7 linked regions of the Homo sapiens genome follow. The protein of the gene in region 1 purifies or fractionates together with the protein of each later gene. This does not show direct contact. Each region holds a gene or a part of one and is shown on either strand. Other genes may lie near its edges.

Region 1 (3,500 bases):
GTACTATTAAAGAGTATGCAGTGAGGCAGCTGACAATGAAATTTTTCATAAAAATGTATAAAAAGGCTATGTTAAGTTTGGGTGGAAAAAACAATGCACCACCATATTACTACCAGCAGTCACGATGTCCTGTCTCAGATTTTAGGAGTCACCGATCTGGTTGGGAGAAATGCTGAGGGATGATCAAGCCATCAATAGCGATCTAAGGAGTGCACACAGTTCAGGAAATGGATAAACAGGTGCCCAGGAAGGCAACTTTAATGAAACTGGTTCTAAAACAAAGGATACAAGAGACCTAAATGATCCAAAAAGAGTGATGGCTTCTCATTTTCTGTCCCCTATAGAGAATATAAATATCATTTCTTCTGGAATCCAACACACTGGATTCATTTTCAAGATGTATCACTTTATTTTCCAGCACGTGACAGTCACATGATTTCTGCAGTGAGCCCCAAAGCTTCCACGAGCTTTCCTGGAACCTACGGCCAGAAGAGTCCTGAGATTTCAAATATTAAAGCTTTCTCCACAGCCACAAGTCCCTTTGATGTTTGGGTTATTGAACACAAACTCACTGGATAATTTGTCTTCAACATAGTCCATTTCTGTTCCTAAAAGTGTTAGCTGTGCTTTCTTTTCGATGAATACTCTGACTCCTTGGAGAAAAGAAAACATGTGTCATGGAAAGCCTGCAGCCTTATGGAACTTGCTGATTCAAAGCACAAGTGAACTTGAAATAGTGACTATCAATGAAAGTCAAACAAGAAGCCTTGAACATTTTAAATTATTTCCTTAAGGAATTAAGCATTCAGTTTCCTGTCTGCCCCTTCTTTCCCACACATGAATTTATGTCACAATCACATTAGGGGAGAATTTTATACAAGTAAATTCCATGACAATTTTATGCAAAATTAGAATTTACCTTTCACTATACTTCACTCATTTTTCCAGTTTGCAACATGAAGAAAATGTATATTCTCGATGAGTTTTATGAAATAAAAAAAAATTTATGAAAATTCTGCAATACACTAGATACACGGATTCAAGCTTAAAGATGTACAAAGGACTGTGATACAATGGGGCTATTTTAATAACATCAATCAGTACAACAATAGTCTTTTCTGGTTACAGGACGGAAAACAGGTACTATTCCCTAGTAATTACACAGGTAGAGGTCAGCATCTTTGTAAATACAATCTTTTTTTTTTTGGACAGAGTCTCACTCTGTCACCCCGGCTGGAGTGCAGTGGTATGATCATGGCTCACCACAAGCTCCACCTCCCAGGCTCAAGCGATCCTCCCACAGGATTACAGGCACATACCACCAGGACCAACTAATTTTTTTAGAGTCAGGGTTTCACCACGTGGCCCAAGCTGGTCTTGCATTCCTGGGCTCAAGTGATCCTCCCACCTCGGCCTCCCAAAGTGCTGGGATTACAGGTGTGAGCCACAGTGCCCAGCCAACAAATACAATCAATTTAAGAAAGCTTTCTAGTCTGGGAAACAGGGCAAAACCCTGGCTCCACTAAAAATACAAAAATTAGCCGGGCACAGTGGTGGGCACCTGTAGTCCCAGCTACTCGGGAGGCTGAGGTGGGAGGACTGCTTGAGCCCGGGAGACAGAGGCTACAGTGAACCATGATTGTGCCACTGCACTCCAGCCTGGGTAAGAGAGCAAGACTCTGTCTCAACAAACAAACAAAACAACGAAACAACAAAAAAACTTTCTTCCTTACAAGAAATTGAGCCATTAGCTAAATATAAACAATATATAATTAAGTCACCTCTTCTTTAAGATGAAAATCTTAAGGTTTATAATGTGTTATAATTTTTAAAATAATACATTTTTAAAAGGTCTTTATTGATAGTTATAACTTTAGTTTAATAAGAAAGCACACTTAGGAATCTAGGCCTCATTCTCCCATGTAGGTAAGAACTGCAAGCTAAGTGCATACTTCCAATGACAAGATAAATTATTTATTTTAGATAGGTTTTAACAGATTATAGGGTGGAAGAAGGGGGCAGCAGCAAATATAATTAATTTTAATTATAAATTAAATTATAATAAATAGCTTTGAATAAAAATTGGAAATACAGGATTCCTCAAAAACATGAGTTGATAATACAGCTCCACTAAAAATACAAAAATGAACCAGGCATGGTGGTGGGCGCCTATAATCCCAGCTACTTGGGAGGCTGAGGTGGGAGGATCGCTTGAACCAGGGAGGTGGAGGTTGCAGCAAGCCGAGATCACACCACTGCACTCCAGCCTGGGTGAGAGAGCGAGACCATCTCAAATTAAAAAAAAAAAAAAAAAAAGGATTATAATGGAGCTGAAAATTCCCATTGCCTAGCAATGCTGTAGCCACCATAATATCACAAGACAACCCATTACTCAGGTGTTTGTGGTGATGCTGGTGTAAACAAACCTATACTGCCAGTCATATAAAAGTCTAAGCATGTTCAATTATGTACACTACATAATACTTGATAATGATAATAAATGGTTATGTTACTGCTTTATGTATTTACTATACTTTTTATTGTTTAAAATTTTAGAGTGTACTTCTACTTATAAAAAAAAAAGTTAACCGTGAAACAGCCTGAGGCAGGTTCTTCAGGAGGTATCCAGAAGAAGGCATCATTATCACAGAAGATGACAACTCCATGAGTGTTACTGCCCCTGACGGCCTTCCAATGGGATGAGGGGAGGTGGTGGAAGACAGGGATATTGATGAACCTGACCCTGTGGAGGCCTAAGTTAATACGTGTGTTTTTGTCTTAGTTTTTAATTAAAATGTTTATAAAGAAAAAATTAAAAATAGAGAAAAGCTTATAGAATAAGAACGTAAAAAATTTTTGTTATTTGTACAATGTGTTTCAAAGCTAATGTTATCACAAAAGAGTCAAAAAAAAAAAAAAAAACCCCAAAGCTTACAAAGTAAAAAAGTTTCAGTAAACTAAGGTTAATTTATTATTGAAGACTAAGTGTACAAGGTTTATAAGGTCTATAGTACTACGGAGGAACGTCCTAGGCTTTCACATTCACTTATCACTCCCTACTCACTCACTGACTCACGCGGACAACTTCCAGTCCTGCAAGTTCCATGCATGGTAACTGCCACAAACAGGTGTACCATGTTTTATTTTCTTCTTCTTCTTCCTTTTTTTTTCTTTTTTTTAAGAGATGGAGGTCTCGCTATGTTGCCCAGGCTTAAGGGCAGTGGCTATTCACAGGTAAGAACACAGTGCACTATGATGTCTTTTTTTCTTTTTTGAGACAGAGTCTCACTTTTTCACCCAGGTTGGAGTGCAATGGCATGGTCTCGGCTCACTGCAACCTCCGCCTCCTGGGGTTCAAGCGATTCTCCTGCCTCAGCCTCCCAGTAGCTGGGACTACAGGCGTGTGCCACCACACCCAGTTAATTTTTTGTATTTTTAGTAGAGATGGGGTTTCACCATGTTGGCCAGGCTGGTCGTGAACTCCTGACCTCATGATCCAC
Region 2 (3,500 bases), on another chromosome or scaffold:
TGAAATAAGTAAAATTACATTGTTATTTTTCTAAATAATAATGTTTCATTTTACTGGTTTCTTTGCAATGTACAAATATGATAGTTTATTGCATATGACCTTATGTGACTTCCTTTTTAAAATTCATGGTTTCTGAGATTCATCCATGTTGTGTGTTTAACTGTAGTTCATTAGGTTTTTACTGTGTGTGAAATTCTGTTGTGTGAATATACCATAGTCATCTTTTGTTTGTTTATTTATTTTCAGACAGAGTTTCACTCTTGTTGCCCAGGCTGGAGTGCAGTGGCACAGTCTCGGCTCACTGCAGCTTCCACCTCCCGGGTTCAAGTAATTCTCCTGCCTCAGCCCCCCAAGTACCTGGGATTATAGGCGCCCGCCACCATGCCTGGCTAATTTTTGTATTTTTAGTAGGGACAGGGTTTCACCATATTGGCCAGGCTAGTCTTGAACTCCTGACCTCGTGATCTGCCCACCTCAGCCTCCCAAAGTGCCGGGATTATAGGCGTGAGCCACCACGCCGGGCCTCACAGTCATCTTGTAATTAACATTTGGGTTGTTGCATTTGTTAATATTATGAAAAATGCTGTTATAAATATGTTTGCATATCTTTTGGTGTTCATGTCACGAGGATATAAAAACAAGAGCGTAATTGTTGGATGTGCACATGTTTATCTTTAGAATGCTTTCTAAAGTGAATGTACCAGTTTATACTCTCATAAACAACTTCTGAGTTCAGGTTACTCCTAGTTCTCATAACACTAGAACTAAGAGATTTCTTAAGTTTTTTTTTTTTTTTTTTTTTTTTTTTTTGAGACAGAGTCTCGCTCTATCGCCAGGCTGGAGTGCCCAGTGGCCTGATCTCGGCTCACTGCAACCTCTGACACCCTGGTTCAAGCAATTCTCCTGCCTCAGCCTCCCCAGTAACTGGGATTGCAGGCATGTGCCACCACGCCCAGCTAATTTTTGTATTTTTAGTAGAGAAGGGGTTTCACCATGTTGGCCACGATGGTCTCTAGCTCCTGCCCTCATGATCTGCCCACCTCCGCCTCCCAACGTATTGGAATTACAGGCATGAGCCACTGCGCCTGGCCCAGATTTCTTAGTTTTTGGTAATCCAGAAGGAGGTTTCTTTGTGTTTGATGGAAATGATAGTGTCAATGATAGGGGCTGTAGTATTGCATTATGAGTATTGTAGTCCATCATAAAGCACAGAAGTGAAAAGGGTGAAGCTAAAAAGAGCCTTATTAATGTGTATATTCTGAGAACCGTAGTTCGTCTACTTAGTTGCAATAGCATCAGATGAGGGTTTGGAGAAGATCTCTTCAGAGGCCACCAGAGGCATCCTAGATGAAAGTTTGTGAGACTAATGGTTCTGAAACTTTCCTAATTGTTGCCTAACCTGCCTTGTAGTACTATAGTACAGTGACAGAACTGGAAAGGCACAGAATAAGTAAGTTTTTGCAAAGTTGTCCTAGCATGTATGTGTTGCTGTATTTTGTAAGAAAAGAAAGAGCTAATCTGCATATAATTTTATTCTATTTACTACAATAATGTGTTGCAAATTATTTAAACAGCCTAAACTCATAGACAGCCAATGAAGAAACTTTTGGGGTGTGGATATGTATCTGTATATATTTGTATATACACTGTACACAGTTATTTCAGCAAAGGAGCAGGCATTTGATCCAGAGGTTAAGCAGGTAATGATTATTGTAAATTATAACTAAAATCAAGGATTAAGCAGCTGTATTTTTTTTGTTTTTTTATTTTTATTTTTTTGAGGCAGAGTCTTGCTCTGTTGCCCAGGCTGGAGCCATTTACTTTTCGAATAAAGCTACATGGTATGTTAGGGGTGAATCATGTCTAATAGCCCTAAAGTTTACGTGAATGGTGACTTTGTTAGCAAACAGCAGGAAAAAAAAAAAGGAAACCACCATAATTTGCTATTCACTGATCTCTTTACCTAAGACATCTTGTCAAGAAAAGGGAAAAACAGCCTAGATGTGACATATATTCTTTAACACTAAATGAGAAATGAGGTTAAAAATCTTGAGGTTTGGTGAGATAATGATTCTGTTACTAGGAATAGAGGAGCATTTAGCTCATTGTTACTCTTGTTCATCTAGATTTTCTAGGATCTCTCTGTTGTAAACTATAATTAGATAAATAATTAATTAAATGTTTATTGAAACTTATGAAGTGATATAAAGAAGTCTAGACCAGGTGTGGTGGTTCACACCTGCAATCCCAGAACTTTGGGAGGCCAAGGTAGGCAGATTGCTTGAGCTCAGGAGTTTGAGACCAACCTGGGCAACATGGTGAAACCCCATCTCTACAAAAAATACCAAAAATTATCCGGGTTGCTGGTGCATGCCTGCAGTCTTAGCTACATGGGAGGCTGAGCTGAGAGGATACCTTAAGCCCAGGAGGTCGAGGCTGCAGTAAGCTGTGGTCGTGCCACTGTGCTCCATCCTGGGCAATGGAGTGATACCTTGTCTCAAAAAAAAAAAAAAAAAAGAAGTCTGAAACATGGACCCTGTCCCTTGATGAGTTGACACAAAAGATATTTACAAATATCTAACAGAAGGAAACAAATGACTTGTGGTTAATGAGCTACCACATAGAGAGATGGCTTGGAATAGTAGAGAACCTTTCATGGAGAAATTGGGACTCCATTGAAGGATGGATGGATAAAAATTACATGAGTAATGTTTTAGGGTAGTAGTTATATAATATTTGTTTTTTTCCTTCATGATTCTTTCTTTTTTCCCCTTTCTTCTCCAGGCTACCATACCTCTACTAGGTATGGGGAAGACCTTAAAAGCAAGGATAAGCAGCATGAATAGAGCTAGAATAGTAAAAACTAGAACATTTTAGGATAACTAAAATGTTGGAAAAAGAAAGCATGGGTTGAGGAATCATTCCACCTACTGTTAAATCTTACTATATAGCTGCATTAATCAAAACACTGCGGTATTGGCAGAGGAACAGACAGATCAATGGAACAGAATAGAGAACCCAGAAATAGATTAACACAAATATGCCCAACTGATTTTTAACAAAAGTGCAAAAACAATTCAATGGAGGGAGGATAGTTTTTTTTTTTCTTTCTCTAAAAATAGGGCTGGAACAATTGAACATCATAGGCAAAAAAATGAACCTTGACCTAAACCTCACACAGTATTTTTTAAAAATCAATGTAAAATGGATTATTTGTGAAATCAATGTCCACTTAAAATGGATTTAAACATGAAATGTTAAACTATAAAACTTTCAGAAGAAAACATAGGATAATATCACGGCCGGGTGCAGTGGCTCATGCCTGAATTCCCAGCACTTTGGGAGGCTAAGGTGGGTGGATCACCTTAGGTCAGGAGTTTGAGATGAGAATCGCTCAAACCCAGGAGGTGGAGGTTGCAGTGAGCCGAGACTGCACCACTGCACTCCAGCTTGGGCGACAGAGCAAGACTCAGTCTCAAAAAAAAAAGAAAACATAGGAT
Region 3 (4,035 bases), on another chromosome or scaffold:
GCATCTAGCACAGCATCTGGCATACAGATGCTCAACTAATTATTTGTTGAAACTAATGTCCTGCATAAAAGTAGTGTAATTTACTTTTTTTTTTTTTTTTTGAGATGGAGTCTTGCTCTGTCGCCCAGGCTGGAGTGAAACGGCCGATCTCGGCTCACCGTAACCTCCGCCTCCCAGGTTCAAGCGATTCTCCTGCGTCAGCCTCCTGAGTAGCTGGGATTACAGGCGCCCATCACCATGCCTGGCTAATTTTTGTATTTTTAGTAGAGACGGGGTTTCGCCATGTTGGCCAGGCTGGTCTCGAACTCCTGACGTGCCCACCTCGGCCTCCCAAAGTGCTGGGATTACAGGCGTGAGCCACCACACCCGGCCTTATTTATTTATTTATTTAGAGACAGTCTCGCTCTGTCCCTCAGGCTGGAGTGCAATGGCGTGATCTCAGCTCACTGCAACCTCCACCTCCCGGGTTCAAGCGATTCTCCTGCCTCAGCCTCCCAAGTAGCTGGGATTACAGGTATGTGCCACAACGCCCAGCTAATTTTTTATATTTTTAGTGGAGACGGGGTTTCACCATGTTGGCCAGGCTGGTCTCAAACTGCTGACCTCAAGTGATCCGCCCGCTTCGGCTTCCCAAAGTGCTGGGATTACAGGCGTGAGCCACCGCTCCCGACCCCTAATTTACATTTTTAAAAACCCTAGCAGGGGCCGGGAACCATGGCTCACGCCTGTAATCCCAATGCTTGGGAGGCCAAAGTGGGAGAATCGCTTGAGCCCAAGAGTTCAAGATCAGCCTGGGCAACCTGGCAAGACCTCGTCTCTACAAAAAATTTAAAAATTATCCAGGCCTATTGGTGCATGTCTGTAGACGCAGCTACTTGGGAGGCTGAGGTGGGAGGATAGCTTGAGCCCAGGACGAGGCTGCGGTGAGTCGTGATCGTACCGCTGCACTCCAGCCTGGGCGACAGAACGAAACCGTTTCAACAGAACAACAAAGACAAAAACCTCCAAAACACCCTAACAGTTAAATTTCCTCAGTCCAGAAGCTGATTGCAGTCCAGTTCGCAATTGGCCAGGCTCTAGTTTATATAGGACCTGAGGCTCCACCCATGTGCAGGCACCGCCCCCGTGGCGTCACGAGCGAGCAATGGCGTCATTGGAACGACATGAGCATGCGCACTTCCCCAGCACAATCAGGGAAGACACGCGTGACCCGGAAGGTCTTCCCGCCACACTCCAGAGCGGATGTGAGGGGCGCCGATGGCGGAGGGAACGGCGGAGGCTCCTCTAGAGAATGGTGGTGGTGGCGACTCGGGAGCCGGAGCTTTGGAACGAGGAGTGGCGCCCATTAAGCGTCAGTGAGTCGCCGGGGCAGGAGGGAAGCTGAAGGGCCTTTTCCGGCACCCATAGCGCGGTCCGAGCTGTGCATGCCGGGAGATTAGGCAGCGGCTGAGGGCGAGAAGCCACCGGCTCTTCATTCCGGGCCGTTCTTCCGCCTGCAGGGTGGTCAGCGGAGGTACCTGAGATCGTGCACGTTGGGGCCTGTCACATGCGCGAAGGACACCACGTGCATGCTAGGGCAGGTGGGATTTGAGGCCAGGCCCGCGCTGCATACTGGGGATTGTAGTCCCTGCATATGGACGTACGGCGCATGTGCTCTGCCAGCGGCCGTTACTGGCGGGTCTTGGGGTTGAAGCGAGTGCCGCGGGGCGTGCTGGGGCCTGCGGTGTTTGAAGGGCCGAAAGGCGTGCTGGGAAATGTGGTGGCTTAGACTCCGCTTCAAGGCATGCTGGGAATTGTAGTTTTTCGCAGCCTAACGTGCGCAGGGACGTTCTTGACTGAACCTGATAATAGTTTCGCGCAACACTTTGGACAGTGAGGACCCAGGGACAAAATAGGTCTTTTTTGAGGCCGTGAGGGGCTCCCAGGCTGGGAGCTGGCTGGTTCTTAAGTAGTGAGCTCCCCATCAGCAGAAGGATTTAAGGACGTGCAAGTGTTTCTAGCCTCCTTTCCCCAGTGTTTATTGACTATGTTCGGAGGGTTTTCCTTTCCCTTTCTGTCGGCAGATACCTCACCACCAAGGAGCAGTTTCACCAATTCCTGGAAGCCAAAGGGCAGGAGAAGACTTGCCGGGAAACCGAGGTAGGAGACCCTGCTGGCAATGAGCTGGCTGAGCCTGAGGCTAAGCGGATCCGACTGGAGGATGGACAGACGGCGGACGGGCAGACGGAGGAGGCAGCAGAGCCCGGGGAGCAGCTACAGACTCAGAAGAGGGCCCGGGGACAAAACAAGGGCCGGCCCCATGTGAAGCCCACGAACTACGACAAGAACAGGCTGTGTCCCTCCCTAATCCAGGCAAGTGCGGCCACGTGAGCATTCCTGCCGGGGCAGGCAGGAGCAGGGTGTGTTTCCTGGCAGCGGGTAATTGTTAGAAAGCTCCTGGGCCTTCAGCAACGAGCAGTGAGCTTGCTCTGATGCCATTCCGTCTTCATTCTCCTCGGGATACATTGTAGGGCTTGTCATTGTTCTCATTGTATAAATGGAGATGCAGAGGCACGGTGAGGTGCCTGACTTGCTCAGGGACACAAGAGCCAGGAGGGGTGATCTAGAGTTTGAACCCTGGCTGCTGGGCTGCCCCGGGGTCTCCCTGTCCTCCCTCACTGCTTCCCTGTTTCCTCGCAGGAGTCGGCTGCTAAGTGTTTCTTCGGTGATCGCTGCCGCTTTCTGCACGACGTGGGGCGCTACCTGGAGACCAAGCCGGCCGACCTGGGCCCCCGCTGCGTGCTCTTCGAGACCTTCGGCCGGTGCCCCTACGGCGTGACCTGCCGCTTCGCTGGGGCCCACCTGAGGCCCGAGGGACAGAACCTGGTGCAGGAGGAGTTGGCGGCCCGCGGGACCCAGCCCCCGTCCATCCGCAACGGCCTGGACAAAGCCCTGCAGCAGCAGCTGCGGAAGCGCGAGGTCCGCTTCGAGCGAGCTGAGCAGGCCCTGCGCCGGTTCAGCCAGGGCCCCACACCCGCTGCCGCTGTCCCCGAGGGCACGGCAGCCGAGGGCGCTCCCAGGCAGGAAAACTGTGGTGCCCAGCAGGTCCCCGCAGGGCCGGGCACTAGCACCCCTCCCAGCAGCCCCGTGCGGACCTGCGGGCCCCTGACGGATGAGGACGTGGTCAGGCTGCGGCCCTGTGAGAAGAAGCGGGTACGTGTTGAGGACAACGTCAGTAGCAGATCTGTCCATCTGGTGTGCGTCTATTAAATACCAGCTGTGTCCACGTTCCTGTTCTAGCTGCCTGGGAGTCAGAGGCTGTGTGCCTTGAGGGAGCTCCTGGCTGAGTCTCCCTCTCTGTGCTCTGTCCTGGGCCCAGCCCTCAGGAGGTGGGGACAGAAAGAGCTGGACAGGGCCGGGGGCGGTGGCTCACGCCTGTAATCCCAGCACTTTGGGAGGCTGAGGCAGGCAGATCATTTGAAGTCGGGAGTTCAAAACCAGCCTAGCCATCATGGTGAAACCCTATCTCTACTAAAAATACAAAAATTAGCCGGGCCTGGTGGCGGGCACCTGTAATTCCAGCCACTCAGGAGGCTGAGGCAGGAGAATCACTTGAACCCAGGAGGCGGATGTTGCAGTGAGCCAAGATTGTGCCACCGCACTCCAGCCTGGGCAACAGAGCAAGACTCTATCTCAAAAAAAAAAAAAAAAAAAGAGCTGGACACACTCTAAGTCTCAGAGGGTCAGGGTCGGGCAGCGGGGGACAAATGTGGGAGGCTTCCTGGAAGAGGGGGCATTGGGACTGGGTTTGGATGGTTAAGTAGAAGCTCTCCAGTGGAGGAGACGATGAGGAAAGGAACATTCCTGATGAAGGGATTGATTGGCACATGCAGAGGCCCAGCAAAGGAGCCAGACCATTTGGGCCAAGTGTGTCCTAGACTGTGGGTAGAAGGGAGGCTCCAGGGCCTCAGCAGCTGGGGTGGAGGCCAAGCTCCACTTGTGTGTATTTTTTTCCCTCCAGCTGGACATCCGTGGCAAACTTTACCTGGCCCCCCT
Region 4 (2,760 bases), on another chromosome or scaffold:
TCTGCTTGCCCATGGTTACTCATGAACTGAGGGGATAGCTTGGCAACTTGGTTAATCATCTTGGGAAAGAAAAACAGACTTCATATCGCCTGACTTGATTGGCCTTTTATAGGAGTATACTGGAGAAATGGTTGTAGAAACAGTATTTACAGCAAAAGGAAACAAATAATGTTCATTTTAAGCAATGTACCATTCACACTGTCCTGCCTTTTCCTCTAGAATTTTATTAATGGTAGAAATTTTTATATGAAATGGGACCAGGACCAGGCTAATATTTTCAGTCCTTAAATATCAAACTCATATGCTGTTATCACTGTGATTTTACTTGTGAAATCATTCCTGTAATGTTTATTGTTTGAAAATGAAATATTGAAATTAGGCTTCCAGAGTAACACTGTCCCCGGAAAAGGATATGAGAAGTGGTGGATGTTGGATGGGGGTGGTTGCACAGTCCTGTGCGGTTCCCATGGCTTTCCAGCGTTTCATTTAGTGAAGGAATGCTCACACTAGATGTAGCACAGCTTCCTGTGGGGCCCGGCAGCAAAGCCCCAGGTGCTCCCTGTCACCTCACAACAAAATGCACTAAGAAACGTAAAGAATAAGAGGAATTAATACCCACCATTAAAGGATGTCCGGCCAACCTATTGTGGAAATTTATAGAATAGTATACACCACAGTTCTGAATAGTGATATCACATAAAAATACATACTAGAGGACCTGCCACGCCATGAGCAGTGTTTTTGCTTTTTGGGGGCCAGTCCCTGGGGTGTGGAGCCGCTAGGGTTTGCACCCATGAAACAGAGAAAAGCCACACCCTCCAAGGTGTGGCTTTCATTTTGGGACTGCTGCAGGGAGGGCAGAGGCATTGCTGAGACTGCCTGGCAACGGCTGATGCCCCAGGTAGGACCTTTTCCAATTCAAAGTGGTGTTCTAAGTCTGCGTCCAACACTGTGTAGGAAAAAGGTTGGTGCAAAAATATTCCTGGTCATCCACCCATTAAAATAGTTAGATGAGGCTATTGCCTTGATGACAGCTGTCCACACTCCTCATGAAATTAACCCGTATGCCGGGGCATTTCCAAATGTCTGACTCGTGAAATTAACCCATACGCAGGGGCCTTTCCAAATGTCTGAAAAGGCAGTGGTGTCTTTTGGGGAAAATGTTATGCATGGAAGCCTGACCTTTTGCTTAGTTGACAGCAATCCCTTCTGTATTGCCAATCAAGGTTCATTTGAGATGCAGAGGAATGAGCTTGAGCCTTCCTCCTTTTCCTTCCGGTTTTATTCTTCCTCTTGGGAACATCCCTCCACTCCGCACTGCTTCCTGCAGCTTTGTAGAGCTGGATTTGGAACTTCGGGATTTGGTTTCTGAGTCTGTGGAGGCACCGACTTCTGCTGTAAGAAAATGAATGTTGTGGAAATTCTTTGGCTACTTAACTAAAACTCGTGACTGTATAAGTTTGGCTACAAATAAGTAAGAAATTAATCATCTGCTCTGTTTCTGCTAATTTCTGGTGTCACTTCAGTAATTCTGGTAGCAGCCGTTGAATCTGTCAGTCTCTTAGGTAACTTCCTGTAAACGATTTGGAAATAGGATGTTTTCAACGTTCTTTTGTCTTTTGCTGAAGTCAGGATAGATTCAAGACATAATCTCTTGTAAGATCTAAATAGAGCAAATGTAAACAAAAGTGCATTTTTGTATTCTTGTTAATTTTAGATGCTTTCCTAGCTTACAAAAAGTTCTGTTTTTGGGTTAAAAATCAATCAACTTTCTGATATTTCCCCTTCTGCAATGTTATTGTTCATAAGAAAACACGAGCTGAAAATGGAAATCTGCAGTTGTTTCAGTTGTCTTGAATTTCTTTCAGTGGCCACATCATTTCCACGTTTTCCACATCCGGGAGGAAGCCTGGACTGTGCAGCCTTCGGGCACCCGGCACAGACACTGTGCTGGCAGGAGCTTCAGACACGCCAAGTGGATGGATTTGGATTGAACGCATATGAAACAGGAGACGGGTTCTCATGTGAGATCAAAGCTCCTCCAAAGCCTGTTCAAGCTCTAAGCGATTCTCAAATGTTACCATTTATTAAAGGTAAACTACACCTGTTGAAGGCCAAGTTCAGGGCAGCTGTTGTGATCTGTGTAGTTAATGTATTTATTAATGCTTGACTTTTAAAATCCTGGGCATAAATAGTGCAGAGCCTCGTATGTTTGTCAGTTCATGCCGAGATGAAATAAATCACGCAGAAAGTGCCAGTCCTCCTGATGTGCCCCGAGTGCTTTTCTCTTTCTCCACAGCGAGCGTCAGATGCGGCTTTTTCTCCTGTGAATCAGGGAGCGTAGCTCTGCCTGCGGGACCCAGGGTTGACACGTCCTGCCCGTTAAGTGAGGAACTGCCCTCACCGGCTCCTGAAGCTCCCCTGGCACAGAGGTTCTAAGTTGGGGTGTCTGTTCCCACTCCCAGGTGCCCTGGATTCCTCGGTCTGCTCACGGGTCCCAGCGGGGGATCACGGCACACCACCTAGGACCTCGGGAACACCAGGATGGGCTGCACAGGAGCAGGTGGAAGCCGAGGCCAGCGCCTAGACTTTGGTTCCTAGGGAAGGCAGGTTGGGGGAGCTGCTTCGCTGCACTGGTTTGTGTCCTTCCAGTGGGCTTTGTGCTATCACGGTGGTCTCCAGTTGCCTGGTACCGGGCCCAGGGGTGATACAGGGCAGGGCTTGTGTGTGAGAGTAGCTGAGGAGGGCTTGGGGGTGTGG
Region 5 (3,500 bases), on another chromosome or scaffold:
TGTCTGGGCCAAGCCCATGTGGTAAATGCACATCTATCCCTCTCCTGTCCAGGCATGTGGGGCCTCGTTAACAATGCCGGCATCTCAACGTTCGGGGAGGTGGAGTTCACCAGCCTGGAGACCTACAAGCAGGTGGCAGAAGTGAACCTTTGGGGCACAGTGCGGATGACGAAATCCTTTCTCCCCCTCATCCGAAGGGCCAAAGGTGAGTGGGAAAGGGAGCTCCCTCCTGCCCCTGAACCTGCCCCACGTGTTCATCTTTGCTCAGAATGGAAATACCTGTCCCAGCAGCTCCAATGTCCACAACTCAGCAGAGGTGAGCTCGTGAATCCCAGGGACTATGCTGGGCCTGGGGTGATGGTGGGCAGAGGGGCTGTGGCCGGGTAGGGGAGGAGGAAGCAGAGCAGGTAAGAGGTCAGTGGTCCATGCAGCAAAAGCTTAAAGAGTTGAGCAGCCATCCACTCTGCACACCTAATCTATAGAGAGAATCACCCTTTGCACAAAGCTGTGTGTACACATCTTTGTATCAGTCAGGTGTGGTTAGTAAAATCTGGCATATTCATTCTATGGGTTATTTATATCGTAGTTTAAAAAATGAGATCATTGTGGTATTAGGGAACAATAGTAAAAATCAAGATTAGAAATTTGGAAAACCAACAAAACACCCAAACCATGTGGGTGGCCAAATGTGAGCAAACCACTTTAGAAGTCATTGACTTGGATTTTTTTCTCTGGCATAGCAAACAATTGTGGCAAAAAGGGTAAGATCCATACATCTATGGTGAAGTCCTAGCAACAACAAGCATGAACACAGACTGCAGCTGTAGGATTTTAGATGGAAACCCCAACCCTTCAGTGACTTCAAATTTAGAGCTTTCTGAAAGGTGCCTCCCCCAGGATGGGCTGAGTTCCCTCCCGGGGACACACCTGGATGGGCTGAGTGCCCTCCCGGGGACACACCTGGATGGGCTGAGTGCCCTCCCGGGGGCACACCTGGATGGGCTGAGTGCCCTCCCGGGGGCACACCTGGATGGGCTGAGGGCCCTCCCGGGGGCACACCTGGATGGGCTGAGTGCCCTCCCGGGGGCACACCTGGATGGGCTGAGTGCCCTCCCGGGGACACACCTGGATGGGCTGAGTGCCCTCCCCGGGACACACCTGGATGGGCTGAGTTCCCTCCCAGGAAAACTGGTCCCAGATCCGCCTCGGCTTCCCGGGCTGGGCCAAATGCAATCCACTTCCAACCCCTCTGTTCCCAGGGCCAGGAGGAGCTGTGGGAGGCCCCTGATGCCCCCAGGCTGGGCCTGTGGCCTTTGGAGGGGGATCACCACACTCTCCCAGTGCCCAGGACTCTCTCCTCATATCCTAGCCCTGAAGTCAGGTTCAGAAATCCTGCCCCTGCCCCTGCCTGCTGCTCTGTTTGCCAGGCGGTCCTGGTCTCCACCCAGGCTCCACCCTACCAGGGTGGAATGGAGTTGGGGAGTTGGGCCTAACAGCACGGGTCCTGTCCTCTTTCAGGGCTGTCCCGGGGCTCCCTCCCAGCTGCAGCCCCAGGTACTTCCTCGTCTGCACTCCAACCCCCATCGCCAGGGCTGCTGTCAGTGGCTAGACACTTGGCCCTAGTGTGCTACTTATCTGCACGTCGTACTACTGGAGCTGGACTTTAAGCTCCATAAGGGGAAGGGGAAGCTTTCAGGCTGTATTTCTCCCTCACCAGCACCAGACCTTGCCTATAGTGAAAGCTCAGATCCACACAGACAGCTGTCTCGCCTCCCACTTCTCCCCTCGTGTTTTCACCCCAAATTATCACCGCATCGGGCTTGATCTGGTTTTTGAGTCAGTTGCGTGTTGCCCATTACACTGTGCCCTGCTGCTTCTCACTCACTTGTCCTCCCCTGTCCTGCCTGGCACAGCCAGGTTCCCAGGGAAGACCAGGGGTGCCGATGCTGATGCGTGGGCCTGAGCTGGCCTTGCCTATTGACTGAGAAGGCTCCTGGGTGGCTCAGAAGTGGTTCCAGCCAAGCCTCTAGAGACATGCCAGACTTCTGCCCGCTGTGTCATAGGGCAGTAACGGCTTAGCAGGTACCTCTGTCTCCCTCTGTAGGCCGCGTCGTCAATATCAGCAGCATGCTGGGCCGCATGGCCAACCCGGCCCGCTCCCCGTACTGCATCACCAAGTTCGGGGTAGAGGCTTTCTCGGACTGCCTGCGCTATGAGATGTACCCCCTGGGCGTGAAGGTCAGCGTGGTGGAGCCCGGCAACTTCATCGCTGCCACCAGCCTTTACAGCCCTGAGAGCATTCAGGCCATCGCCAAGAAGATGTGGGAGGAGCTGCCTGAGGTCGTGCGCAAGGACTACGGCAAGAAGTACTTTGATGAAAAGATCGCCAAGATGGAGACCTACTGCAGCAGTGGCTCCACAGACACGTCCCCTGTCATCGATGCTGTCACACACGCCCTGACCGCCACCACCCCCTACACCCGCTACCACCCCATGGACTACTACTGGTGGCTGCGAATGCAGATCATGACCCACTTGCCTGGAGCCATCTCCGACATGATCTACATCCGCTGAAGAGTCTCGCTGTGGCCTCTGTCAGGGATCCCTGGTGGAAGGGGAGGGGAGGGAGGAACCCATATAGTCAACTCTTGATTATCCACGTGTGGATTATCCACCATGCCAGGAAGACCCATAACTGGTTTTAACACTAACTAGAGGGAATGACTTCTTTGCATAGTGAGTGACTTGGGCCTTCACAAACAGGGTGTGGAGTGGCAGGCAGAGGCCTCTAAATCTCAGGGCAAACATGGTGAATCTATCTCTCCGGAGATAATTTCATACAGAGATTTTAAGAAAACATCTTTATATTAAAAACAGATCTCATTTGATCCTTAAGCCAGTCTCATGAATGAAAAGGACAGGTTTTTTTCTTTTGTAAATGAAGCATTTGCAGCTTAAAGAGGATGCATGAAATAACCCTTTTATCGCTTATAAATAGTGCCAGTTATGTGTTCCTGCCACGGCTGTGGAAATACTTCACATTTGCATTCCAGGACTGTTTTGGATCCATTTGCCCGAGAATCTTCTGACTAACTCTGTGTCCTCATCTGGGCAGCACACACCAAGTGCCCACTGGTACCTCTGCATGTCCATGGTGCTGTGTGACTGGCCAGCCAGCAGCCAGTGACTCAGAGCTGGCTGTATGGAGGGGGTGGGAATGTTTCTGGAGATTTTTGTTTTTCCAGACACAGTCTTGCTCAGTCCCCTAGGCTGGAGTGCAATGGCACCATCTCCGCTCACTGCAACCTCCGCCTCCCTGGTTCAAGCGGTTCTCCTGCCTCAGCCTTCCAAGTAGCTGGGGTTATAGGCACCCACCACCATGCCGGGCTAATTTTTGTATTTTTAGTAGAGATGGGGTTTCACCATGTTGGCTAGGCTGGTCCCGAACTCCCGACTTCAAGTGATCCGCCTGCCTTGGCCTCCCAAAGTGCTGGGATTAC
Region 6 (3,500 bases), on another chromosome or scaffold:
TGACCCACTGTGCCCAGGCAGAATCACTCTTTTTAGAAAATAAGTATTAGTAAGCAGTGGGTTCTGAAATAAATAAAGGGACAATTAGTGTCATGGTGAATAAAAGAAAAAGGGCTCACTAAATTGATTAACGGGTCTGGAGGATACTGGATCCCAAACCCAAGAAGGTGGCACCCAAGAAGAATTACATTTTAAAAATTAAGAAGATTTTTTTAATGAAAAATATTGGATCAGTAATTTCTACCCAGTCTTCTCAAAGGTGAGAGCATAGAAATGTGTCTGGCATTCTTCCAAATACTTGAGCAGTTTCCCAAGCATCAGTTCATCTTTTGAAGACTGGTGGGAATGAGAAAGTCTGACTTATTCTGATTTATATTTTGTGTATAAATACACACAAAGGGATGGGGTTTAGGTTTTAATTTTTTTTTTTTTTTTTTTGCTACGCTGATTTAATCCTGAAGTATTAGCCATCCTGCCAGTTCCATCATGAGAATACTGGAGATGCATGAAGGTTTTTTTTAGTGCACTTCATATACGAGGACTTGAAAACATTTCACTTTCATTACTTTGAGTGAATAAGCAGACTTGATGCTACATGCAGTGAATATTCTTGGATCATTTTTTATTTTTATAAATTGAATCATGTTGAATGTTCTGAGCCTTAGTGTCTAAAGGATCCTGTAATCTAGGTTTTCATGTTTGTGATCATGTGTATATGAAGAACCTAGCCAGGGGTAAGTTTGCAGCGAGAAATGTATGGTCTATTGGCATGGCATTTGCTAAGTTTTTTTCTTCCTGTTTTTAACATGTTTGTCTTCTGCTTCATTAACCTAGTGTGTAGATGAATGCTATACACTTCTTTTTCCTAGGCTTTAATTCCATCAGTCATAAATTTCTTGTAGGTCTTTCACGTGTTAATAATTCCAATTGAGTCAAGTAAATTTGGAGTAGAATAACTTAGTTCCTAAGTTGAATTTCATTTAACTCTCCAAATAATTTTTCAGAAGGGATTCCATTTTTTGCTAATGATAGAATTGACATTTCCAGCTGGGCATAGTGGCTCATGCCTGTAATCCTAGCACTTTGGGAGGCCGAAGCAGGCGGATCACTTGAGGTCAGGAGTTCAAAACCAGCCTGGCCAAAATGGCGAAACCCCATCTCTACTAAAAATACAAAAAAATTAGCCGGGCGCAGCGATCACTTGTAATCCCAGCTACTACGGAGGCTGAGGCAGGAGAATCGCTTGAACCTGGGAGGTGGAGATTGCAGTGAGCCGAGATCATACCACTGCACTCCAGCCTGGAAAAAAAAAGAATTGACATTTCCATCTTTGTAAAAAATAGTTGAAGGCCGAGTGCAGTGGCTCATGCCTGTAATCCCAGCACTCTGGGAGACCAAGGTGGGACGATTGCTTGAGGCCAGGTGTTTAAGACCAGCCTAGGCAACGTAGAGAGATTGCATCTCTACAAAAAAAAAATTTTTTTGAATTAGCCAGGCGTGGTGGCACATGCCTGTAGAGGAAGCTGAGACAGGAGGATTGCTTAAGGCCAGGTGTTCAAGGTTACAGTGAGCAATGATCGAGCCAGTACACTCCATCCTGGGTGACAAGTAAGACCCTGTCTCAAAAAAAAAAAAACTTGACAAATGTAAAGTTGTTTTCCGCCTTTTCTGTGGGTCTCTCTGCAAGCATGTTCCAAGCACGTGTATTTCCTGCTCTGTTTCTCTGAGTATCTAATTGGTGATTTCCAAGATTGCTTCCTTTGCTCTACTGTGTGGTAGATTGGAAACAGATTCTGGTGCCAGGCTGCCTGTCCAGCTTTTTGCTTTGGGGCAAATTAACAGCACTGCCTGGTGGGATAGGGCCTCATTCATTAAAATGGGGGTAACTTACAATCCCTATTTTGCTGGGTTGTTGGGTTTGAAAATTAAATAATGTTTTGAAAGCTCCAAGGCCATTGCTTAGCATAACAGTCCCCCCTCTTTCTCTCCTCTTACTAAGAAACAAGTGAATATATTTCTTGTGTTTGTTGAGTCTCTTTGTGTGTTTTTTTTTTTTTTTTTTTTTTTGAGATTGTCTTGCTCTGTCACCCAGGCTGGAGTGCAGTGGCATGATCTTGGCTCACTGCAACCTCTGCCTCCTGGGTTCAAGCAATTCTCCTGCCTCAGCCTCCAGAGTAGCTGGAATTACAGGCATGCGCCACCACACCTGGCTAATTTTTGTATTTTGAGTAGAGACTGGGTTTTACCATGTTGGCCAGGCTGGTCTTGAACTCCTGACCTCAGGTAATCCGCCTGCCTTGGCTGCCCAAAGTGCTGGGATTATAGGCATAAGCCACCATGCCCGGCCATGTTCCCTTTTTTAAAATGTGTATGAGGAGGGGGCTTACTATGCAAGCGCTTGGAGGCCAACGAGCACTGAAAATGAGGAGAGAGTTCAAAAATCAAGTTAGATCCTGGGATACGCCAACAAATCCAGACACTACAGTTCTTTCGGAGAAACCTGGGGACGAAAAGTAAGGCTTTGACCTCAGAAAATGAACATACAGGAAAAATAATGTGTCCTAATGTGTCCTAATGAAATTTCTCTAGTATTCACATGTTATAAAATGTTAGGAAGAAAGAAGATGTGTCCTCCTACAAGCCATAAATCAGAATTCTAATAATCTAAAGCTAATTAGAAAAATATTACATGTTAAATATTAAATATTAGAATAGAAAAATGTATGAGGGAAAAAAATTGAGACACAGCTGAATTTTTCAGGCTGTTCCAGCACTAAAAAAAAAATACAGGAGAAGAATGTCACATATTTTCCTCTTCCTCCCCCTCCAGATTCCATAATATCAAATTCATAACTTTTCATTTGCGCATGCCTTATTTTCCATTCCTTGTTTGTCACTAATCCTGTTAGTAAAAGGATTCCCCCACCTATGTTCATAATTAAGTTTTGGTCTAAAAAGAACTACAAACAGAAGCACAGTTCCCTAGATTTCTAATTTTTTTTTATTTTATCACAGCCAGTTAACTTATTACATTGGATACTTAAACACATAGTACCATAAACTGGATGTGGTCTTGTAGCCGCCAGATCTTCAGTTTTGACTTTGGCCCAATTCTCCTAGAAGTACTTAATTTTAATTCATTTTATTACCTAACGTCCTATTAATAATCCCGTTGGTTTCAAAGTATATTCTTAGGTTTCACAAGAGGCTGAAATTTGGTCTTAGGGGTTGTCACTTAAAAATAACTAATGTAATTTTTGGCCGGGCACGGTGGCTCATGCCTGTAGTCTCAGCACTTTGGGAGGCCAAGGCTGGCAGATCACGAGGTCAGGAGTTCGAGACCAGCCTCACCAATATGGTGAAACCCCATCTCTACTAAAAGTAGAAAAATTAGCCAGGCACGGTGGCGGGCGCCTGTAATCCCAGCTACTCAGGAGGCTGAGGCAGGAGAATCACTTGACCCCAGGAGGCAGAGGTTGCAGTGAGCCAATATCGCCCAC
Region 7 (3,500 bases), on another chromosome or scaffold:
GAGAATGTGTCTGTATAATTTCTACTTTATGAAACGTGGGGGTTTTTTTGGTGGCCTAATATATTTTTGTAACCATGAGTGTTTCATGCAAACATGCATTTTTGGTCTTGGGGATGTAAAACCATATATTATAAACATACCAATTATTAGGTATATTATTCAAATCTATGTCATATATCATAATCTCTTAGAGCATCTCTGGGAGGTGTACTGAGTCTTCCACTTCAGCTGTGGCTTTATTGGGATGTTATGTGGTAAAGCATCCATCAATGCTGTCCTGTGGAAGGCTCTACATTTAGGTTGTTTAAAAGTCATTATTTCTAGGCCAGGTGTGGTGGCTCACGCCTGTAATCCCAGCAATTTGGGAGGCCAAGGCGGATGGATCACTTGAGGTCAGGAATTCGAGATCAGCCTGGCCAACAAGGTGAAACCAAGTCTCTACTAAAATACAAAAATTAGTCGGGTGTGGTGGCAGGTGCCTGTAATCTCAGATACTTAGGAGGCTGAGGCAGAAGAATCTCTTGAACCCAGGAGGCAGAGGTTGCAGTGAGCCAAGATCGTGCCACTGCACTCCAGCCTGGATGACAGAGCGAGACTCCCTCTCTAAATAAATAAATAAATAAATAAATAAATCTGGAAAACATGGCATATGGAACCACATGTTCAGCAAGAATGCATCTTGCCCATGTGAACTGCCAAAAGTGAGGGCTGAAGACTAGTTGCCAAAGCTGTTAAAAGAGGGCTGGGCGTGGTGGCTCACGCCTTTAGGAGGCCGAGGCAGTCGGATCACCTGAGGTCACAAGTTCAAGACCAGCCTGGCCAACATGGCGAAACCCCGTCTCTACTAAAAATATAAAAAAATTAGCTGGGCGTGGTGGCACAGGTCTGTAATCCCAGCTACTCAGGAGGCTGAGGTATGAGAATTGCTTGAACCTGGGAGGCAGAGGTTGTGGTGAGCAGAGATTGTGCCAGTGCACTCCAGCCTGGGCAACAGAGCAAGATTCTGTCTCAAAAAAAAAAAGCTGTTAAAAGATCAGATGCAGACATTTGATGTCCCTCTGTCAGAGTGAGAGGGAAGACAGTAATCTCAACGTTCTGCTCAGAAGAGCATTTAAAATAGTCAGAAACTGGAAAAGTACGCCCCAGCCCCTAGTCAAAGGTGCACATGAAACGATAGCCCTGACGTATGGTAAGGCTGAAACTGTTTACATTACATTATATAAATTAGAATAATTTCAGATCAGTTTCCAAGCTGAGCCCACACACAACCTCATCTTGGTCTAAAACTTCAAAATGAACACACAAGAGGGACATCTTTAAAAAATAAATAGATAAAAAATAAAAAATAAATCTTAATTATAATCTGGGAATAGGAGTGAAAGTAGAGATAATCTCCAAAAGCCTCTTAAAGTTTAAAATACCAAAATCGGAGCCAGCTCTCATCCAGCAGGTGTGGCAGGTATCACTCGCCCTTGCCATGTTAGAGCTATGTGGTGTTATTTTACTGGATGAAGGAACCATAAAGCCTACTTAAAGGTCAACTTCTTAAAAATCTATTTCTGCTCCTTCCCCTGAATGCAGGAGCCCATGGCAGACTACAGCAGCAGGGATCAACAGCGAACAGACCTCCAGCATTGTCTTCAGCTCTCTCTAAGCTAAGCTAACACTTAATTCTCTAACAAGTAATTCTCGGTGACTCCTGCTAAGGACCCCTTGCTTTTGGAAAACTACAGAATTTTCCAAAAGGTACAGGGACATGTCTTAACCTACATGGTATGTCTGCTGGACTTGGTCAGGTCCCCATGACATTTAAGGGCCAGCCACTAGCCAGGCCATAGGCTGTTTATGAACACAGGTTAGGGAATCTATGATGAAGAGTCTTGTGTTTCCCAAAAGGAGGAATTCACTCTTGGATTGCATTTCCTGAGGCTTTATTTTTAGTCCAAACTTAATACCAACTTCCAAATGCCAGAGGGCAACCTCTGTAAGGCAATTGGCCTTACAGGATAGCATTTTCTTTACTCTCAACAGGAAATACAGAAGCCAAGACAGGTGCAAAGTTTGCCTCTTCTGTAATTCCTCTTATCAATGCCATTACGAAATCCCATGATCTATGGGAAACCTATGGTTAAGTCTGAAGGTTTTAAAAAGGCACAATCCCAGGCTGAGCATGGTAGCTCATTCCTGTAATCCCAACATTTGAGAGAATCACTTGAGCCCAGGAGTTTGAGACCAGCCAAGGCAATATAGTGAGACCTCATTTCCCCCAAAAAAATTTTTAAATTAGCCAGGTGTGGTGGTGCATGCCTGTATTCCCAGCTACTCGGGAGGCTGAGGCAAGAGGATCACTTGAACCTGGGAGGTCAAGGATCCAGTTAGCCATAATCATACCACTGCAGTCCAGCCTGGATGACAGAGCAAAATTTTGTTTTATAAAATAAAAAAATAAATAAGTCATGGTACCTCAGGGAACCCCAAGCTCCTCAGAATGGGTTAATTCTAAATCTGGCAATGGAGGCAGGAATGGAGCCATCCCAACAGCTGCTACCTGGCTCCTGGGCAAGGCCTCTGTCCATAGGTAAAGCCAGCTAATAAAGAGCCCAGCACAAATACAGTCCTACTAGGCTCCTGGGGAAGAGTGCTAACTGGTGTTATTTTAATGTACCAGAACCCCTGGGAAGGCACAGGCTGAGAATACAGTGCTGAGGAAGTGGGGTATTACACCCCAGATAGTGCTTATGCATTAGGCTCAGTCCCTCAAAACTTAGAATAGTGGAAACCGTTCTCATGGACCTGCCCAGTTATTTTGGTTCTAAGCTAGAATCAATCTGCTAGATGGTTTACCATGGCAACACAAGGTGAAGCAGAAACCCTGGGACAGGAGAGTCAAGCGCTGTGGCCAGGACACCTAAGGCTTAGAGGGTTTTCCAGTAGAACCTTTCCATATCTTCCTTTGTAAAAGCTAAGGGTAGGAGAGGTGTGTGGGAGAACCACAGCCAGCAACAAAGGGGGTCCTTTTTGCTAAAAGAGACTCAGCCAGTTGCTTTGTCAGGACAAGAGGGAAGGAGAGTAGGGATGGGCTAGTAAAGACAAACTTCACACTGACTGTGAAACTCAGACTCATCCTTGTCTAGTCCACTGTGGCTAAACGAACACTGCACCCCCTCCCTGTTTCCTACAGGCCATCACAATGGCCATAGGGTCCAGCCACAGCTCACCTCATGAGTTCCATGAGAGAAGTTCAGACGAGCCACATTCATTCCAGACTTAATCATCTCCTTCAACGTCTCCACTGATCGGGAAGCTGGGCCTATTAGGAAAAGTTTTAAAGCCACAAGTATTAATTATTCAAAGAAGGAAAAACATTTAAGTTTGCTTAAGTTTAAAGAATTTTTTTCCCTGAAAACTTTTCCTCTCCCAAATAGCTCAAAAGTCTTTAAAAAGTGCATGGAAGGCTACTACCGTGCCAGCTTACTTTCTTGATCTACTGGGACACTTCG

What was found.
Region 2: the proteins of ISCA1 (region 1) and PDSS2 purify together in Homo sapiens (affinity purification with mass spectrometry; one large-scale study listed by BioGRID and IntAct). This does not show direct contact.
Region 3: the proteins of ISCA1 (region 1) and DUS3L purify together in Homo sapiens (affinity purification with mass spectrometry; one large-scale study listed by BioGRID and IntAct). This does not show direct contact.
Region 4: the proteins of ISCA1 (region 1) and KBTBD11 purify together in Homo sapiens (affinity purification with mass spectrometry; one large-scale study listed by BioGRID and IntAct). This does not show direct contact.
Region 5: the proteins of ISCA1 (region 1) and BDH1 purify together in Homo sapiens (affinity purification with mass spectrometry; one large-scale study listed by BioGRID and IntAct). This does not show direct contact.
Region 6: the proteins of ISCA1 (region 1) and MGME1 purify together in Homo sapiens (affinity purification with mass spectrometry; one large-scale study listed by BioGRID and IntAct). This does not show direct contact.
Region 7: the proteins of ISCA1 (region 1) and PKM purify together in Homo sapiens (affinity purification with mass spectrometry; one large-scale study listed by BioGRID and IntAct). This does not show direct contact.

What each region holds. Positions count from the first base shown.
Region 1 is NC_000009.12:86,265,539-86,269,038, forward strand, and holds part of ISCA1 (iron-sulfur cluster assembly 1 homolog, mitochondrial precursor), read right to left. Parts: intron 654-3,500; coding exon 505-653; 3' UTR 1-504. UniProt on the Homo sapiens protein: Involved in the maturation of mitochondrial 4Fe-4S proteins functioning late in the iron-sulfur cluster assembly pathway. Probably involved in the binding of an intermediate of Fe/S cluster assembly.
Region 2 is NC_000006.12:107,453,065-107,456,564, reverse strand, and holds part of PDSS2 (all trans-polyprenyl-diphosphate synthase PDSS2), read left to right. Parts: intron 1-3,500. UniProt on the Homo sapiens protein: Heterotetrameric enzyme that catalyzes the condensation of farnesyl diphosphate (FPP), which acts as a primer, and isopentenyl diphosphate (IPP) to produce prenyl diphosphates of varying chain lengths and participates in the determination of the side chain of ubiquinone.
Region 3 is NC_000019.10:5,788,364-5,792,398, reverse strand, and holds the start of DUS3L (tRNA-dihydrouridine(47) synthase [NAD(P)(+)]-like), read left to right. Parts: upstream 1-1,235; 5' UTR 1,236-1,257; coding exon 1,258-1,355; intron 1,356-2,063; coding exon 2,064-2,352; intron 2,353-2,679; coding exon 2,680-3,192; intron 3,193-4,000; coding exon 4,001-4,035. UniProt on the Homo sapiens protein: Catalyzes the synthesis of dihydrouridine, a modified base, in various RNAs, such as tRNAs, mRNAs and some long non-coding RNAs (lncRNAs). Mainly modifies the uridine in position 47 (U47) in the D-loop of most cytoplasmic tRNAs.
Region 4 is NC_000008.11:2,004,677-2,007,436, forward strand, and holds the end of KBTBD11 (kelch repeat and BTB domain-containing protein 11), read left to right. Parts: 3' UTR 1-2,260; downstream 2,261-2,760.
Region 5 is NC_000003.12:197,510,969-197,514,468, reverse strand, and holds part of BDH1 (D-beta-hydroxybutyrate dehydrogenase, mitochondrial precursor), read left to right. Parts: intron 1-52; coding exon 53-205; intron 206-2,104; coding exon 2,105-2,574; 3' UTR 2,575-3,500.
Region 6 is NC_000020.11:17,972,018-17,975,517, forward strand, and holds part of MGME1 (mitochondrial genome maintenance exonuclease 1 isoform 2 precursor), read left to right. Parts: intron 1-689; coding exon of another isoform or gene 690-734; intron 735-3,500. UniProt on the Homo sapiens protein: Metal-dependent single-stranded DNA (ssDNA) exonuclease involved in mitochondrial genome maintenance. Has preference for 5'-3' exonuclease activity but is also capable of endonuclease activity on linear substrates.
Region 7 is NC_000015.10:72,214,191-72,217,690, forward strand, and holds part of PKM (pyruvate kinase PKM), read right to left. Parts: intron 3,311-3,500; coding exon 3,219-3,310; intron 1-3,218. UniProt on the Homo sapiens protein: Catalyzes the final rate-limiting step of glycolysis by mediating the transfer of a phosphoryl group from phosphoenolpyruvate (PEP) to ADP, generating ATP.